Homo sapiens: one gene and its partner. The protein of the gene in region 1 purifies or fractionates together with the protein of each later gene. This does not show direct contact. Each region holds a gene or a part of one and is shown on either strand. Other genes may lie near its edges. The genes, in order: MTFR1 and PRMT2.

The links.
Region 2: the proteins of MTFR1 (region 1) and PRMT2 purify together in Homo sapiens (co-immunoprecipitation; one large-scale study listed by IntAct). This does not show direct contact.

Annotation. Positions count from the first base shown.
Region 1 is NC_000008.11:65,679,234-65,682,733, reverse strand, and holds part of MTFR1 (mitochondrial fission regulator 1 isoform 1 precursor), read right to left. Parts: intron 691-3,500; exon of another isoform or gene 654-690; intron 382-653; coding exon 283-381; intron 1-282. UniProt on the Homo sapiens protein: May play a role in mitochondrial aerobic respiration. May also regulate mitochondrial organization and fission.
Region 2 is NC_000021.9:46,648,886-46,652,904, forward strand, and holds part of PRMT2 (protein arginine N-methyltransferase 2), read left to right. Parts: intron 1-689; coding exon 690-854; intron 855-2,920; coding exon of another isoform or gene 2,921-3,121; exon of another isoform or gene 3,122-3,959; coding exon of another isoform or gene 3,960-4,019. UniProt on the Homo sapiens protein: Arginine methyltransferase that methylates the guanidino nitrogens of arginyl residues in proteins such as STAT3, FBL, histone H4. Acts as a coactivator (with NCOA2) of the androgen receptor (AR)-mediated transactivation.

The DNA of each region.
Region 1 (3,500 bases):
TGAGGTCACCTAGGAATTAACAACTGCTTAGCTTATTATATGCTCCTAAATCTTCACATATGCATCCTTAAGAAGGATAAATATCTTAAAAATCTCAATCACGTCACAGAGAAACTAAAATTAGAAAGGCTTTACTGTGGTTTTTAATCCTCTTCTATTGTATTGATAGTGGCATCAATTGGTGAAAAGTCTCAAAAACAAAATGCTTTTAAAACCATCTTGCCTATTTATATTTCTAATGTACATATTAATAAAATACTTAAAATATATAAAATATAATACCTGAAACTGAACTCTTGGACACTGAATCAGAGACAAATTAGTACCAATTTTCCTTACGATACTTCGAGACGAACCATATGGCTTCCTAGACCAAAGTACCTGAGGAAGTAGGAAAAACCGAAAGCTTAATTACAAGATGTACAGAACTGTTAAGACAAAGCATTAGACAATTATTTGTATGACATACTAACACATTAATTACAGGATCAGAATGCTCTAAATGTTATGGCAAATAAGCTAATGTTTCTCAATCCAAAAATAAAGAATATATAGATAGATAGAGAGATAGATATTATTAATTCAATAAAGTTTAATGTAAAGTATTATATAAAAATATAAACTAGCCAGTAATTTTTAAATACTATACTTACAGTAAAAATTTTATTTTCATCAGGTTTTCATACTATTCTGCAACAGAAACACTATTTTATCTCTTCTGCTATATTTTTAGTTTTAGAATTTTGATATACATAGTTTTTATTAAATGTATGTTACTTTTGCTGTTACACACTTTTCAAAACAATCCCAAATTAGTACAAAGTTCAGAATCTGAATGTGTACCATGCAGGGTGCTCCATGTTGTTTGCTGCACAAGAATGCTTGGCCAAGGGTGAGCAAAGGCTGAAATCCAGGCATATTGCTCTTGGGAGGCCTGCTCCCCAAAGGAAAGGTAAGAAATTTCATCTGAGCAGAATTTCTCAGATGAAATCATAATAAAACAGGACATTATGCTATGCTTAAAGACAAAAACAAACCCTCAAAGCAAAAAAAAAAAAAAAACAAAAACAACAAAAAGCACATGTGTTGAATGTTAGGTAAATCATTATAAATTGTACCTTGAAACTTCTCCCCAAGTATATGACCCCTCTTTAAAGGAAAAACTATTCATCTGTTTTGAGTGCTACACTTGAAAGCCTGGACAGAATAAGTAAAGAAAGGTAGTATGCTATTAAAAGCAATTTTAAAAGAAAAGAGTAAGAATTATATGACTATTATACTTAATTCATCAAACTTTAACATTCAGTTATGTAAGGCCAGGTGCGGCGGCTCCTGCCTGTAATCCCAGCACTTTGGGACACCAAAATGGGCGGATCACCTGAGGCCAGGAGTTCAAGACCAGCCTGGCCAACATGGCAAAACCCCATCTCTACTAAAAATACAAAAATTAGCCAGGCATGGTGGTGCACACCTGTAATCCCAGCTACTTGGGAGGCTGAGGCATGAGAACTGCTTGAACCCAGGCCGGGCGCGGTGGCTCACGCCTGTAATCCCAGCACTTTGGGAGGCCGAGGCGGGTGGATCATGAGGTCAGGAGATCGAGACCATCCTGGCTAACAAGGTGAAACCCCGTCTCTACTAAAAATACAAAAAATTAGCCGGGCACGGTGGCGGGCGCCTGTAGTCCCAGCTACTCGGGAGGCTGAGGCAGGAGAATGGCGTGAACCCGGGAGGCGGAGCTTGCAGTGAGCCGAGATTGCGCCACTGCAGTCCGCAGTCCGGCCTGGGCGACAGAGCGAGACTCCGTCTCAAAAAAAAAAAAAAAAAAAAAAAAGAGAACTGCTTGAACCCAGGAAGCGGAGGTTGCAGTGAGCCAAGATGGCACCACTGCACTCCAGCCTGGGTGACAAAGCGAGACCTTGTCTCAAAAATAAAACAAAATAAAAACTCAAAAAACAATTATATTCTAAAGACTAAAAAGAACCAAATCAGCTGAGTATGAATTCTGGAGAAATGGATACTACCACTTTTTTAAGATCAATCCGTGATCATTCTACTTTAAAGAATGAAATTACCCCAATATAAACAAACAGCATAACCAAACAACGGTTCACTGTAAACAGTGGAGGCTCCAAAACCTAACTCAAACTAGACCCTTAGATAAAAGCATATACAACTTATAAAATGAGCACAGAAACTATCTGATTTCTTAAATTTTAGCAATCAAGTCCAATTCAAGGATAACAGTATGAGTCAGTGTGGGGTTCAGGGCTGGGCACAGTAGCTAACATCTGTAATCTCAGTGCTTTGGGAGGCTGAGGTAGGAGGATCATTTGTGGCCAGAAGTTTGAGACCAGCCTGGGGTCTTTTTGTGAGACCGCCATCTCTACAAAAAATTGGAAACTTAGCCAGGGGTGGTGATGCATGCTGTCATCCTAGCTACAGGAGAGTCTAAAGCAGGAAGGTCCCTTGAGCCCAGGAGTTCCAGGCTGCAGTGAGTTAGGATTGCACCACTGCACTCCAGCCTAAGCAACAGAGTGAGACCATGTCCCCCCGCCCCCCAACCCCTGAGAAAAAAACCAACAAAGTGGAAATCATAGAAGGATATATAATACCCCTGGCACCTGCCATAGCTTTCATATAATTTTTATCACACATTTTCCAAAGTTTCACTGAATCTTACCTAGAAGAGTTCCAAAAAGTACTTATAACCTATACTGACTCCAATAACCAACAAAAATGATAGCTCTTGCTTCGGAAATGTAAATAAAAAGGATGGCAAAGATTAGAAAACTGGTAAGTAGAAAGGAAGATAAAAATATTAAAATATGAATAGTATACAAAGAATGTTAAGAAGCAAAGTTACTCTGAAGCTTAGAAGAAAACATCATTCACATCAATAATCATACAGGATTATGACACAAGTAGTCTTAATAACGTGAGGACTAAGGGAAAGGAAAACATCTGACTAGAGAAAAATGGGAAGCCTCGCAAGTTCTACAATGTCAACATCAGACTACCCACCAAAAAAAGAACAAACATGGGCAAATAATTCTAAGACAGTATTTAAGCAAACTTTTTACCTTATTACTATTATGTATTTATTTTTGAGATGGAGTTTCACTCTTTCGCCCAGGCTGGAGTGAAGTGGAGCAATCTCGGCTCCCTGCAACCTCTGCCCCCTCCAGGTTCAAGTGATTCTCCTGCTTCAGCCTCTTGAGTAGCTGAGATTACTGTAGCTGGGATTACAAGTGAATGCCACCATGCCTGGCTAATTTTTTTGTATTTTTAGTAGAGACGGGGTTTCACCATGTTGGCCAGGCTGGTCCCGAACTCTTGACCTCAAGTGATCCACCTGTCTTAGCCTCCCAAACTCCTAGGATTACAGGCGTGCACCACCGCACATGGCCCTACCTTATACATTTTAATAGATCCTGTTCTTTTACAAATAAATCCATAGGGCAAAAGTAAGTATACCATTCAGTCATTTCTCTTCTTGA
Region 2 (4,019 bases), on another chromosome or scaffold:
TGCGTGGGGCGGGGTATGTTCTGTGAGACGTTTATTTCAGTTGAGTAGAGAAACACGTGCACCCACATGTCTGTGCTGGGCCTTGGGTGTGGTTGGTCTCATGGGGTTGGGAGGGATGCACACGCTGGGCCCCCTCCCCACCCCTCTTAGGCCGTCTATACTGTGCTGAGCTGAGCCGAGCTGCAGCCTTGGAGACTCCTTACACAGTGGGTGGGGTCGCAGCACAGTGTCCACCCAAGTCCAGGCTCTGCAGGACCCAGGACCCAGCGCTTGGGTGCTTCCCACCAGACCCTTCCCTGAGAACCTGGGTTTGAAATTGTCTGACAGGCCTCAGATGTGGCACAGACCAGCATTGTCACTTGGGTGCTAAGAAGTTGCTGTGCTGGTCATGGATTAAGATTGCTGTGCGTGTGGCAGCCGGCTCGGGCATGCGAGTCTTCCATCCACTTGCAGCCCTGCGTCTGTGTCTTGTCCGGGAGGTGGGGGCAGTTGGGAGGGTTAGAGGCGGCTCCTTTCTGGGTGCCCCTGGAGGGGCAGGTGTGGCCAGTCCTCGCTGCCTCTGCTGTCTGGAATGCTGCTTCCCTCTTGTGTCATTGACCATTTCTCGTGATGCTGGTTGTGACTCAGGAGAGTAGATGACGGGCCGTGTGCCGGCCGGATGTACGCTGACGGTGCCTCTGCTGCTGCAGGTGTACGCGGTGGAGGCCAGTGAGATGGCACAGCACACGGGGCAGCTGGTCCTGCAGAACGGCTTTGCTGACATCATCACCGTGTACCAGCAGAAGGTGGAGGATGTGGTGCTGCCCGAGAAGGTGGACGTGCTGGTGTCTGAGTGGATGGGGACCTGCCTGCTGGTGAGGGCGGGCGTGCGGGCAGCTGGGGGCCGGAGCTGGGGGGCTTCTGAGCACGGGCTCGGCTGGGCCAACCTCAGGATCTCAAGGGTCGTGCGTGATTCATTTTGATGTTTTCCCTAATGTGAGGTCTAATTAATTTCTTGTGTGGACATTGGCTCAGTGTCTTGAATTTTCACCTGATTTAAAAAATGCCTTTATGAGAAATTTAAGTCAAAGTTCATGTAACATTTTCATGAGTGATTTACATGAACTGTGTTCTCCTCGGGGATCTGTAAAAATCCTGTGCCTAACAGGTAAGGCTGTTTCTTTAATGCCAGTAGGGCCTTCGTCCCTGGCCAGGGTCTCCTCGCCTTAGACTGGCCCCAGTGATGCTGTGAAGCCACTTGGGCATCTGTAGGGCCAGCATATGCCTGTCCTGTCAGGGTTGCTCACCCTGAGTTTCACATGTGGGTGGAAGTGGACTGTTTTCTGGTTGCCTGTGAATATGCCCTGCACAAACGCTGTCTGCTTGGAGGGAAGTTGACGGGAGTGTGGCTGGATGCTGTCTGCCCGCGCTGTCTTCCTGGGCTCAGCATCCTGGGACACAGGACATTGTAGTGGAGCATCCCAACCTGAAACTTTGTCTCAGTGTAGAGACCCAGAAAGATGGGGTCTGGGTGAAGGAGTGTGGAGTATGGCTGCTGCTTTCCAGGAAACGGTTTCCCCTGGTAACAGATGGCATTGGGCTTTTAGTCCTGTTGAAATTTTGTTGTCAGAAGATAAATGTAAATAGACTCAATGTCCATGCTGTGACTTGGCTTATTAATAACATCTGTGGAGCCATAAGATGACACACAGGAGAAACGGGCTCCACTCCTACCCCCTGAAGGGGCATTTGCCTTTGCCCTGAACAGCAGCGCCCATTCAATAAGTATCTGTTGACAGCTGGTGCCCCGGCCACGGGGACAAAAAGAGGACAGAGCAGGAGTGAGGCTGTGGTGAGGCCAAGGTTGTGTGGGCGGTGATACGGGGAAGCCTGGCTGCTGGAGTGTCCGGCTGTGCCCTGGATTGGGTGAGAGGGACACAGGAGGGACGTGGGGCAGAGGGAGGGGAGAGGAGTAGCCACTGTGTTCACCGTGTTGCCGTGTTCCAGGGCTGCCCAGTGGCCGGATTGGCCAGACTGTGTTGCATCAGGGAGGCAGAGGCCAGATGTAGGGAACTGTGTGTCTGAGGACTTTGTGCCACGTCCTGGACACCGAAGGGAGTGCCACTGGTGTGTGAGTGATGGAGTAAGAGGTGGGCTGTGTTTTGGAGGCCCCTGGGTATGTGTGGCCGGGACTGGAGGCCAGGGACTGGCTGTGGTCCAGCCCCAGCATGCAGAGAGGCCTGGGACATTCTGTGTGAGGGGAGGCCCCTCTGTGTGGGAGGTGCACAGACTTCCAGGACTGACCATGGCTTTATTGTCAGGATGCAGGAGCCAGGGCTTGGCATGGGGCAGGTGTGGGGGATGCAGAGCAGGGCCAGCAGGCAGGATGTGCTGATGGGGGCCTGGCGTGAGCAGGACGGTGCCTCCCAGCCCTGAGCCGCAGGGAGTGGGCCACCAGGACTGGCTGGGGGCCGGGGTAGGGAGGGCCCTGGGGAGGGTGGACATCTGTGTGGGTCTTGAACATAGGATGCCCATCCGATGTGCAGGGCCAGCTATTGGTTGGGCAGTGGGGACATGGCCTGGGGTCTCGGTGGGCGATGGCCTGGAGGGGCCACCCTGAGCAGGACATTTGGAGGAGTGCTGGGGTGAGTCAGACAGGACCATGTGGTGGTTTTCTCCAGTGCAGGCAGTGGAGGGGGAAGGCGGAGCTTTGCAGGTGAGGGCTTGAGGCAGTTCCGACTTCAGACTCCCCCCCAGGGAGACTGAGGGACCACCACCATCATTACTCAGGCCAAGGAGGCCCAGAACAGGGCAGACGGGGCTGCAAGAGTTCCTATGGCGATAGTTGTTGGGGCACAGGGTTGGTCGGATTTGAGGGAGGGAGGGTATGAATCTGGGAGTCGTTGGTGCGGTTGTACCCACCTTCACTTTCCGTCCCCAGGCTGCGCCTCTCCTGAGCTGCCGCATTCTCCCCTGCACCTGTGCGTCTGGCCCTCTTCACGTCCTCCTGGCCTGCTGTCTGCCTCTCCCCTGCACCTGTGCGTCTGTCCCTCTTCATGTCCTCCTTGCCTGCTGTCTGCCTGTTCTCAGAGCCCCTCAGCCCTCAGGCCTTCATCTCTCCTGGCCCATCTTCCTACTCTGACGCTGACATGTAGTAAAAGTCTGAAGACAGAGAAGAGTGCATGTGCGTTTAGCATAGGAGGGGCAGCTTTCAGTCAGTGCAGCAAGGGCATGTAGTTGTTCAGAGATGGTGCTGGAACGACTGATTTGGAGAAAAGAGGCCCTTCTTCACACCATCTGCTAAAATAAACCTCAGATGGGCTCAAGAGTTAAATATTTAAGAAAAGGAGGAAACAAAAAAATTGCTACAAGTTTATTTGTTGTTAGGATGGGAAAGGTTTTTCTAAGAACCAAGTTCATAATGAAGCTGTCAAATAAAATACTTGACAAAAAATTCCCCTTCATACATTAGCACAGCTAAAAACTATTAAATGGTAAATGCAACTAAAGAATTGCAGCTAAAGAATTGTGTGACGTAAAGAGTTGCAATAAGAAAAGCATAAGATAAAGGTAACCTCATGGAAGGTGAGCAGGGACTAGAAAGGCAGAGAAATGCCAGAGGCCAGGAGCTTGAACGTTGTTCAATGCCACCAACAATTTGAAAGTAACTGTAATAGTTTTGACCTGGGAAGTTGGCTGAGCAATCCTCTAATATCTGATGCTCCCGATGCTGAGGTTGTGGGGAAGTGTGCACCGCCATGCCCTTTTTTTGGCAGTGTAAATTGGTAAAGCCTTTTGAAGGAAAATAGGGCAGAATAAGTCAAAGAGCATTAAAATTTTTTTGTTTTTCCAGAAGCAGCAAAGTTCTGAAGGAGACGCAAGTAAAGATACCACAGGTGTCCTAGATTGTCAACAGACCATTTAATCATTTTTGTTAACAAAGCAGGTGACAATTGAGCCCTAATTTGCGTTATCATTAGTTGTTACAGGATCTTGCTTGTTCTCCTGAGGCCACGCCACGATTTCCGAGAAGCAGGTTG